3 linked regions of the Homo sapiens genome follow. The protein of the gene in region 3 purifies or fractionates together with the protein of the main gene of each other region. This does not show direct contact. Each region holds a gene or a part of one and is shown on either strand. Other genes may lie near its edges.

What was found.
Region 1: the proteins of L2HGDH (region 3) and IVL purify together in Homo sapiens (affinity purification with mass spectrometry; 3 studies listed by BioGRID and IntAct, with this or other methods). This does not show direct contact.
Region 2: the proteins of L2HGDH (region 3) and SERPINB4 purify together in Homo sapiens (affinity purification with mass spectrometry; one large-scale study listed by BioGRID and IntAct). This does not show direct contact.

What each region holds. Positions count from the first base shown.
Region 1 is NC_000001.11:152,906,967-152,911,345, forward strand, and holds the start of IVL (involucrin), read left to right. Parts: upstream 1-1,579; 5' UTR 1,580-1,623; intron 1,624-2,812; 5' UTR 2,813-2,831; coding exon 2,832-4,379. UniProt on the Homo sapiens protein: Part of the insoluble cornified cell envelope (CE) of stratified squamous epithelia.
Region 2 is NC_000018.10:63,638,990-63,641,392, reverse strand, and holds part of SERPINB4 (serpin B4), read left to right. Parts: intron 1-401; coding exon 402-519; intron 520-1,616; coding exon 1,617-1,759; intron 1,760-2,052; coding exon 2,053-2,208; intron 2,209-2,403. UniProt on the Homo sapiens protein: May act as a protease inhibitor to modulate the host immune response against tumor cells.
Region 3 is NC_000014.9:50,246,163-50,249,816, reverse strand, and holds part of L2HGDH (L-2-hydroxyglutarate dehydrogenase, mitochondrial isoform 1 precursor), read left to right. Parts: intron 1-2,563; coding exon 2,564-2,759; 3' UTR 2,760-3,654.

The sequences.
Region 1 (4,379 bases), on a different chromosome or scaffold from region 3:
AATGAATGATGTCCATATAATAAGTTATTAGCCAACCATTAAAAAGAAAGGGAAGAAATAAATCAGTTTGGTTTTTACACACACATACAGACACACACATATAAACATTGATCAACACTGAAATGTTTAATAGTCATTATTTTCGGGTCGTAAAATTCACTGTTCTTCAATGAATACTTGTAGAGCACATATTATATGCAGTAGTTTTGATAGGTTCTAGGGGTATAGTGGAAAACATACCAGGTATACGCTGCTCTTAGCTTATTTTCCAGTGGGAAAGATAGACAATAAGCAAGTGAACAAATGCAAATAAATTACTCTAGATTGTTATAAGTGAAATTAAGTACCAATCCTTTAGATATGGTACACAGAGAAGGATCTCTGACAGACCCCAACATTGACACTGAAGCTGAAAGGCATAAAAGAACCAGAGACCTGGGGAGGGGCCGGTGGGCAGAAGGAGAGCAGGTGCCAAGCCCCCAGGTGGAGAGCTCTGGGCTCATCTCAGGAACCGAAGGCCCTCAGTGAGGTAAGAATATACCTCTCAGGGAGAGATTGACATGAATTGGGGCCCCAGAAGAAGGCAGAAGCCAGGTACCCAGGGTCTTTTAAACCACGGCAGTGAGTTTGAATGTTATTTCAAGTGTGCTGGTGCACTGTTGGCACGGGGGAGAGATGTGCTCAAATCCCCACTCTGAAAGATTTCTTAAGCTATTTCTAGAGTATGATTTACAACAGGAAATGGATGATTTGATTCTGATCTTTATACCTTCATGCATTTAAAAAAGTACTTAAGAAAGTAGTTTGGTTTGTCATTATAAAAAGCAATACTTATTTTTATATTGTGTAGATTCAATCTTGTTTCCTTGCCTAGAGTGGGCCGTGCTTTGGAGTTCTTATGAGCATGGCATTCCTGAGAACTTCTCTAACTGCAGCCTCGGGCATAGAGGCTGGGCAGCAAGTGGCAGCAGCAGAGGACTCCTAGAAGCCTTCTACTTGACTCTACTTGGCCTAAAGTCAAACTCCCTCCACCAAAGACAGAGTTTATTTCCACATAGGATGGAGTTAAAAAATATATTCTGAGAGAGGAAGGGCTTGTGGCCCAAGAGAACACCCCAGAAATACCACCCCTTCATGGGAAGTGACTCTATCTTCAAACATATAACCCAGCCTGGACATCCCCGAAAGACACATAACTTTCCATTTCATGCCCTTGAAAGTGAATCTTTTGGCCTAATAATGAGAACAAACTCATTTTGAAAGTGGAAAAATTGAGATTCAGAGCAGAAGTTTGACTAAGGTCACAAAACAGTAGGATGCCTCACTCAGCTCCCTGTGCCTAGGTCAGAAAAGCATCACAGGAATAGTTGAGCTACCAGAATCCTCTGGCCAGGCAGGAGCTGTGTGTCCCTGGGAAATGGGGCCCTAAAGGGTTTGCTGCTTAAGATGCCTGTGGTGAGTCAGGAAGGGGTTAGAGGAAGTTGACCAACTAGAGTGGTGAAACCTGTCCATCACCTTCAACCTGGAGGGAGGCCAGGCTGCAGAATGATATAAAGAGTGCCCTGACTCCTGCTCAGCTCAGCACTCCACCAAAGCCTCTGCCTCAGCCTTACTGTGAGTCTGGTAAGTGTCGGATGGTAGAACCAGGGTTGGGACTCGGGACCTCCAACAGCATACGATGTGGTGGGGGTGGGCAGCCTGGGTGGGGGTGGGCATTACTCTGGGGCTGGATTCAGCTGGACTTTCATTCTAGGGGGACTCGAGTCAGAGTACTGAGAGAAAAGTGCCTTGGCACAGAAGTGCAGAACAGAGAGTAATCATCCTATGTCCCATCTTTTCTTGTGACCATATTTTTGGATTTGTGTGTGAGAGAGAATTATGGAAGGGAGGAGGGGAATAGCATTCAACTTCTTTCCTAAACCTCTTGGGTTTTGACAGACCATCATTTTGCCTTCTTTATGGAGGGAGAGGTTCAGGGAAGAGCTTCTACCTTTTGGCTATGCTGCACAGAGGGATGGCAGAATGGGGAAACCTTTCTATTTGGAGAAACCTAGGCAGAGCTGGGACAGGAAAACTCAACTTAGAAGTATAAGACTTGGAAGAACAACCTCCAACTCTCAGCAACCTTCCAGCTCCCGCAGCCCCACCCCAGACACAAGGACTGCAGCTAAACCTCAGAAGGTCAGGAGAGAAAGCAGCCCTGGGGTTGAATAGGCCAACCTGCTGGCTTTACAGGGGGGAAAACCAAATCCCAGGAGACTAAGTGACATGCCCAGAAACACACAGCATTCCAATGGGAGATTCAGGCCTAGAGCATGTCCTGTGGCTCCAGTCTGGAGGTCACACCATGACCTCTTAGGTCCTCTCTGGCACGGCCTATTGGTTTTCTAGGACTTGGTGTTCTCCAAGAGACATTTCATTCCCTAAGGCCTTACTCCTCACTGTGACATAATCCCAGAACGCATCTCTGCTCCTTGGTCAGTGAAGCGATGAGGGTGGACACAAGGACTAGACAAGAGCAGACAGTGAGCTGGCACCTGACCCACCCTTGCAGAACAGCCCTGCAGACAGATCTCCTTGTTGGCTCTCACCTGGGAACAAGGAGGCTCCTAGGAGGACCTTTCTCTGCCCCTCCACATTTCCACCCTTCTCTCTCTGCTGCTTTTGGGAAATGATAGTCCAGAGGTGGTAGAACAGTACCCTGCCCAAGGGAAGAGGGGATGCTAAAAAACCAGATACTTCTGCAGATTCCCAAGGTTTCATCTATTTCCTTTGCCTTCAGCCTGTGCATCAGACCTCTTCTGTCTTTCAGGTTGACAGTAGCTTCTAAGATGTCCCAGCAACACACACTGCCAGTGACCCTCTCCCCTGCCCTCAGTCAGGAGCTCCTCAAGACTGTTCCTCCTCCAGTCAATACCCATCAGGAGCAAATGAAACAGCCAACTCCACTGCCTCCCCCATGCCAGAAGGTGCCTGTCGAGCTCCCAGTGGAGGTCCCATCAAAGCAAGAGGAAAAGCACATGACTGCTGTAAAGGGACTGCCTGAGCAAGAATGTGAGCAACAGCAGAAGGAGCCACAGGAGCAGGAGCTGCAGCAACAGCACTGGGAACAGCATGAGGAATATCAGAAAGCAGAAAACCCAGAGCAGCAGCTTAAGCAGGAGAAAACACAAAGGGATCAGCAGCTAAACAAACAGCTGGAAGAAGAGAAGAAGCTCTTAGACCAGCAACTGGATCAAGAGCTAGTCAAGAGAGATGAGCAACTGGGAATGAAGAAAGAGCAACTGTTGGAGCTCCCAGAGCAGCAGGAGGGGCACCTGAAGCACCTAGAGCAGCAGGAGGGACAGCTGAAGCACCCGGAGCAGCAGGAGGGGCAGCTGGAGCTCCCAGAGCAGCAGGAGGGGCAGCTGGAGCTCCCAGAGCAGCAGGAGGGGCAGCTGGAGCTCCCAGAGCAGCAGGAGGGGCAGCTGGAGCTCCCAGAGCAGCAGGAGGGGCAGCTGGAGCTCCCAGAGCAGCAGGAGGGGCAGCTGGAGCTCCCACAGCAGCAGGAGGGGCAGCTGGAGCTCTCTGAGCAGCAGGAGGGGCAGCTGGAGCTCTCTGAGCAGCAGGAGGGACAGCTGAAGCACCTGGAGCACCAGGAGGGGCAGCTGGAGGTCCCAGAGGAGCAGATGGGGCAGCTGAAGTACCTGGAACAGCAGGAGGGGCAGCTGAAGCACCTGGATCAGCAGGAGAAGCAGCCAGAGCTCCCAGAGCAGCAGATGGGGCAGCTGAAGCACCTGGAGCAGCAGGAGGGGCAGCCTAAGCATCTGGAGCAGCAGGAGGGGCAACTGGAGCAGCTGGAGGAGCAGGAGGGGCAGCTGAAGCACCTGGAGCAGCAGGAGGGGCAGCTGGAGCACCTGGAGCACCAGGAAGGGCAGCTGGGGCTCCCAGAGCAGCAGGTGCTGCAGCTGAAGCAGCTAGAGAAGCAGCAGGGGCAGCCAAAGCACCTGGAGGAGGAGGAGGGGCAGCTGAAGCACCTGGTGCAGCAGGAGGGGCAGCTGAAGCATCTGGTGCAGCAGGAGGGGCAGCTGGAGCAGCAGGAGAGGCAGGTGGAGCACCTGGAGCAGCAGGTGGGGCAGCTGAAGCACCTAGAGGAGCAGGAGGGACAACTGAAGCATCTGGAGCAGCAGCAGGGGCAGTTGGAGGTCCCAGAGCAGCAGGTGGGGCAGCCAAAGAACCTGGAGCAGGAGGAGAAGCAACTGGAGCTCCCAGAGCAGCAAGAGGGCCAGGTGAAGCACCTGGAGAAGCAGGAGGCACAGCTGGAGCTCCCAGAGCAGCAGGTAGGACAGCCAAAGCACCTGGAACAGCAGGAAAAGCACCTAGAGCACCCAGAGCAGCAG
Region 2 (2,403 bases), on a different chromosome or scaffold from region 3:
TTCCTGAGAATAGTTGAGGAAGTACCAGGAAATATTGAATGCACAGGATGAAAGACAAAAACAAAGATCAGAAACATCATGGTTAAAATTACTGGAGAGAAGTCTGAGAAGCAATGAATCTCCTTCAGGGAAGCCTGCTCTGCAGTTTGCAAACCACAGCCTCTTCTGCTTCTGCCTTTTGCCAAGATGATATTGACCTTCAGTGACCTCTTTCTTGTGCCAGCCCACATTCCCCTTTTGCATTGCCTACATGACACCTGTATAAAAATATCCATGGACAGGAGATACTGCATCTATTCAGGGTCTGGATTCAGCTTACTGTTGTTACAAATAAGTAAGTTTGGTAATATATAGTTACATAAATTACTCCTAATTCCTACTTCTTCCTTCATATCTCAAAGGAATATTTAGATGCCATCAAGAAATTTTACCAGACCAGTGTGGAATCTACTGATTTTGCAAATGCTCCAGAAGAAAGTCGAAAGAAGATTAACTCCTGGGTGGAAAGTCAAACGAATGGTAGGAGAGCCACCCATTATAGAAACACCTTTGAGAAACCTATGCCAGTGAGCCTTGTGCTTGACACTGCATGGGGGAACAGGTGTGGGGATTGAGATGGGTTTGCAGGGAGGGCTGAAGAGGGCACTCCAGATGAAGGATTTGTCCAAATGAATATGAAGAGAGCCTAGGGGAGCCAAGGAGGAAATCACAGGAAGCCAATTAGATGGAAACACATCTGGAGAATTATTTGCTTATGGCCCTGCATGACAATAGCTTTGTGGATCCCCTGTCTCCGCTCAGGCCTATTTTGAGATCATATCCTTTACTTTAAATCAGACTCAAATTTTTATGATGAATATTTAATAGAAAACATTAGAAAGCGTCTCTCGTCTCCTTTACTAATTGGGAAACAAGCAGCTCTCTGGTAAATCACCCTTTTGTCTCTGAGCTGGAGCTGCCTGGATCACATCTGTAGCCAATGTGTTCTGCAGGGATTATCACAGCTCTCTTCCCCATCAAGGGCAAAGAGCTTGACAAAGTCTCCATTCTACAGACATCTTTCTTACCTCCCACCTCTCATTACAGGCCAAACTTACAGCAACTCAACATGAGAGTGAATAGGAAGATACCCCCGGAAGTAGTGTCTGACAGCACAGGACATGCGTTTCATATTACAGAGCTCAAGTCACTCATCCTAAAATGCAATCAGGGCCTCCTTCCTCTGAATGGGGACCCCGTAGTTAAAAAAAAATAAAAGTAGGAAGAGGAGGGAGGGAGAAAGGAAAGACACATGTTGGAAGAGTAGACAAAATCAGTTTATCAGTATTCCAAATCAGATGATTGGAGACATTCATACACAGAGAACGTGAACTCCTTCTCTATCACAAGAAGTGATGTCTCCATCAAGGGTAACTTTATACGACTGGAGCCTTGAAGAAAGCTGCATCTGGTGAACCACTGGTCAGTGAGTCTAACAATTCAAAGATCAAAGTCAGTGAGTCTCAAGCAGGGATTTGGGTCAATAATTAACGATCAGTCACGAACATTTGCAAAGCATCTTCCAGACAAGCCATTTGTAGCTTGTGTAAAAGACTCTTTTATTCTTTCCCTTGCAGAAAAAATTAAAAACCTATTTCCTGATGGGACTATTGGCAATGATACGACACTGGTTCTTGTGAACGCAATCTATTTCAAAGGGCAGTGGGAGAATAAATTTAAAAAAGAAAACACTAAAGAGGAAAAATTTTGGCCAAACAAGGTATTGTCTATATTTTATTTATATAGTGTAATATGTTAATACATGGAATGTTAAACATTTCTGATGGAATGTAACATGATAAGTAAAAAATAAAAATTGTTCATGTCTGTTATTTTGTTGTTTTACTCTTATAACTTTATTTAGTTAGGAATACCTGAAAAACTATTGTTTCTAACTCATGGAATTCCTGGGTTATTTCTTAGAAGAAGAAGGATGTGTTGCTATCTCAATAATATTATCTTTTTTGTCTTGTGTTTCACGTGTTATTTGTTGGACACATTGATTTATTGCAGAATACATACAAATCTGTACAGATGATGAGGCAATACAATTCCTTTAATTTTGCCTTGCTGGAGGATGTACAGGCCAAGGTCCTGGAAATACCATACAAAGGCAAAGATCTAAGCATGATTGTGCTGCTGCCAAATGAAATCGATGGTCTGCAGAAGGTAAGAACTTGCATCTACAACTCTTCCTTCTACTGCCGGACATTTTTCCAAAGATACCAAGTTTAAACAAGGTAAAAGCTTATGACCGAGTTGCCTCAAAATGATGAAAAATTCTAAATGAGGAATGATGACTCACCTTCATATTACAAATATTTGAGCATAGGGCCTGACACAAACTGAAAGCTTAGTTTTTGT
Region 3 (3,654 bases):
TGGTACCTAAGGTGTAAGACAAAGTCCCCTTTACTTTTATCTCTGCTTTTCTCAAACAGAAGGAGTCTTTCACTGTAGCCACCACAGCTGGGAATGTGCTGGGTCACACCTGAAGCCAGCACATCTCAGAGTCTCATCCAAGGCCCATGACGCACTCCTTGGGTATCGCTGCTGGTTATTCAGGGCCCAAGGGCTCTTTAGTCAGCAGGTAATGTATCCTGCTAGGACTGGGTTTTTCCCTCCAAGGCAGTAGGTTCCCTTTTGGCCCGGGGTGGGTCTAGAAATGTTGTTCAGGAGCTAGGGCCTATAATGCGGGCCTCACAACTCTGCCCAGTGCCATATCCTACTGTGGCTGAGCTGGAATCCAAGATGTAAGACGGTCCTCTTTACTCTTTGCTCTTTGCTCCTTAAGCAGAAGAAAGGAGTCACTTCTATTGCAGCTGCCTTTGTTTGGGGGATGGATGATGCAAGCACTCTTTTAGCTATGCCGGCTGGTATCTCCCTAGATCACATGCCACCCTAGTCCACTGACTATAAGCCCAGCCTAGTGCTAGTAGCTGAGGAGTTGGAGTCCTTGTGCCCTAGACTGTATTTCAAGTTTATCTAGGACCCCAGAGCTTTTCAGCCCACGGTGGTGAGGCTTGCAGGGAAACTCAAGTTCTGACCACTGGGATGGATGCTTCCTGTCTAGCTGGGGCAGGTCCAAATGCTCCCTCCATGTGCTGGCGCTGGCTGAGCCCAGCCCAGCTTTATTCTCCACTGTGACAGGGCAGCACTGAGTTCAGTGTAAAGGCCCCCAGCCACTGTACCCTCCCTTTCCCAAGTGCATAGGTTCTGTCTCCACACCACATGGCTGGCTGCTGCTAGGGGGTGAGGGAGGGGTGGCATTGGCGATGCAAGACCATCTTTTCTGCCCTCCTCAATGCCTCTTTCAAAGATATGAAGTCAAAACCAGCCACTGTGATTGCTCACCTGATTTTTGGTTCTTGTGACGGTGCTTTTCTGTGTGCAGATAGTTAAAATTTGGTGTTCTAGCAGCCGAACCAATGTTTGTAGGCTTCTTTTCCACCGTCTTGCTCCACTCACTCCCATATCTGATTCTTACTTGGAAATTCTTACAGCTAAAAAATCTCTTGTCCAGATTCCCTGCAGGATTCTATAGGGAAGATCACTTATCTTTATCATACAACCTTTCACTCTTACTGTTATAATTCTTATTTACCTCTCTACGAATGAATAGTATAGCTCTGTGATTTCAGGCAAGTTACTTAATCTCTCTGTGTTTCTTTGCTGTTAAATATAAACTGTGTCAGCCTCTTAAGAGTTGTTTTGAGGATTAAATGAGGTAATTCCTAGCACAGAGTAAGCACTTACTAAATAATAGCTATTACTATTATCTCTCTTCAGCCAGCTGAAGTCTTAGAGGGCAGTGCCTTCATAGTGTTCTTTGTATCTTCTGCAAGTACTTATCTGATTTGTCCCAGAATTAGTAAAAAATGTTTAATATTGTTTCCTGATTTCTTGAGCCTTGCTGGTGTGTATAAGATAGAATTTTTCACACTGGGCTTCCTTGGACAAGTTTCATAAGAGGTGCTTTTTTGTAGTTCAAAAACATTGGATTCAAATTTCATCTGTAAATTTTAACTGTTTAAAAAAACAACAAAAATCTGTGAGCTCAAATGTTATAAAATAGAATTTTAAGTAATAAAGATTATCAGTGTCTTTACAGTTGTTCACACCTATAATCCCATCATTTTGGGAGGCTAAGGTGGGAGGATCACTTGAGGCCAGGAGTTTGAGACCAGCCTGGGCAACGTAGGGAAACCTTGTCTCTACAAAAAAAAATTTTCTTTAATTAGCCAGGCGAGGTTGTGTACACAACCTGAGCAACAGATCAAGACTATCTCAATTAAAAAAAAAAAGACTCTCATTTTATTAACATGCTGCTAAATTTATTTTTATGCTTTTCCTATCATCTTTTGAAATTGAAGATGATCCTGATATTGAAGGGTAAACTCTTAAAAACAAACTGCAAAACAAGAACTTGTTGCCATTTGCAAATATTTCTCTCCATAAATTTTAATTGTGTGAATTTTAAAAACACAAAAATAAGTAGAATAGGATACAGGAATGCAACTGACACATAACCTCTGCTTTCATTGATTTGTATTACTCAGATGAGGCTTATTGTTGCCATTGATTGATTTTTATAATAAATTCATTCTATAAATTTAAATAAAAATATACCTGTTCTAATTAAGTGTGGATTTACCTACTACCTTTGGAAAGAGCAGACATTGATAAATAACTTACTTGTTTTTATGTATTTCTTTGATAAGCGTTTGTTACACTATTGTTACGTAATAGGTTTTAGGCTCTAAGCTAACAATATAGGTTTGACAGGCTACAACTGACAGCCTTTGGTTAAACATAAACTCATTGGGTTTCCATATAATTGTGCATTTAGAAGAATACTTTATTGCTTTAAGACTTTTTGGAAACGCTGACTTGTAAAGTATCCTATGTCTTTGAGTCAGCTGACTCCCATCTTTTACTTTTGCAGGGGCCCAGCTGGAGTAAGAGCCCAGGCCCTGGATAGAGATGGAAATCTGGTAGAAGATTTTGTATTTGATGCAGGAGTTGGGGATATTGGAAATCGCATTCTTCATGTGAGAAATGCACCTTCTCCTGCTGCTACTTCTTCCATTGCAATTTCTGGAATGATTGCAGATGAAGTACAACAAAGATTTGAATTATAAATAATGAAAGGAGCTAGGTATGCACTGTAATCTTCATGTCAGCAACAAGAATGTACTAATTGCATTCTTTAATTTAAAAAATGGTTTTTAAACTTTAGTTTTTAGGTCAAAGATAACCACTGCATTGTTAAAATGATGTAACATAGAAATAATAATTTTCTACAAAAATTAGCCAGGCATGGTGGCGCATGCCTGTAATCTCAGCTACTCAGGAGGCTGAGGCAGGAGAATCAATTGAACCGAGCAGACGGAGGTGAGCTGAGAGCTGAGATTGCACCACTGCACTCCAGCCTGGGTGACAGAGCAAGAAAATAATAATAATAATAATTTTCAAAATGTTAGGCTGGGGGCCGTGGCCAGCACTTTGGGAAGCCAAGGCAGGTAGATTGTAGCCCAGGAGTTTGAGAACAGCCTGGGCAACATGGCAAAACCCTGTTTCTACACAAAGTTAGCTGGGTCTGGTGCCTCTGTAGTTCCAGCTCCTCAGTAGGCTGAGGTGAGAGGATCACTTGAGCCCAGGAGGTCTAGGCTGCAGTGAGCTTATGTTCATGACACTGCATTCCAGGCTGGATGATAGAGCAAGATCTTGTCTCAAAAAAAAAAAAAAAAAAAAAAAAAATCCAGCCTGGGCAACATAGTGAATGAAACCCCATCTCTACAAAAAATACAAAAATTAGCTGGGCATGATGGTGTGTGCCTGTAGTCCCAGCTACTTGGGGGCTGAGGCAGGAGGATCGCTTGAGCCCGGGAGATCAAGGCTACAGTGAGCTGTGTTCATGCCACTATACCCCAGCCTGGGCAACAAAGTGAGTCCCTGACTCAAAAAATAAAAACAACAACAAAAAATAAATTCCATGCTTATTTACTTTGCGAATAAAGAGGCAAGGTACAGTTT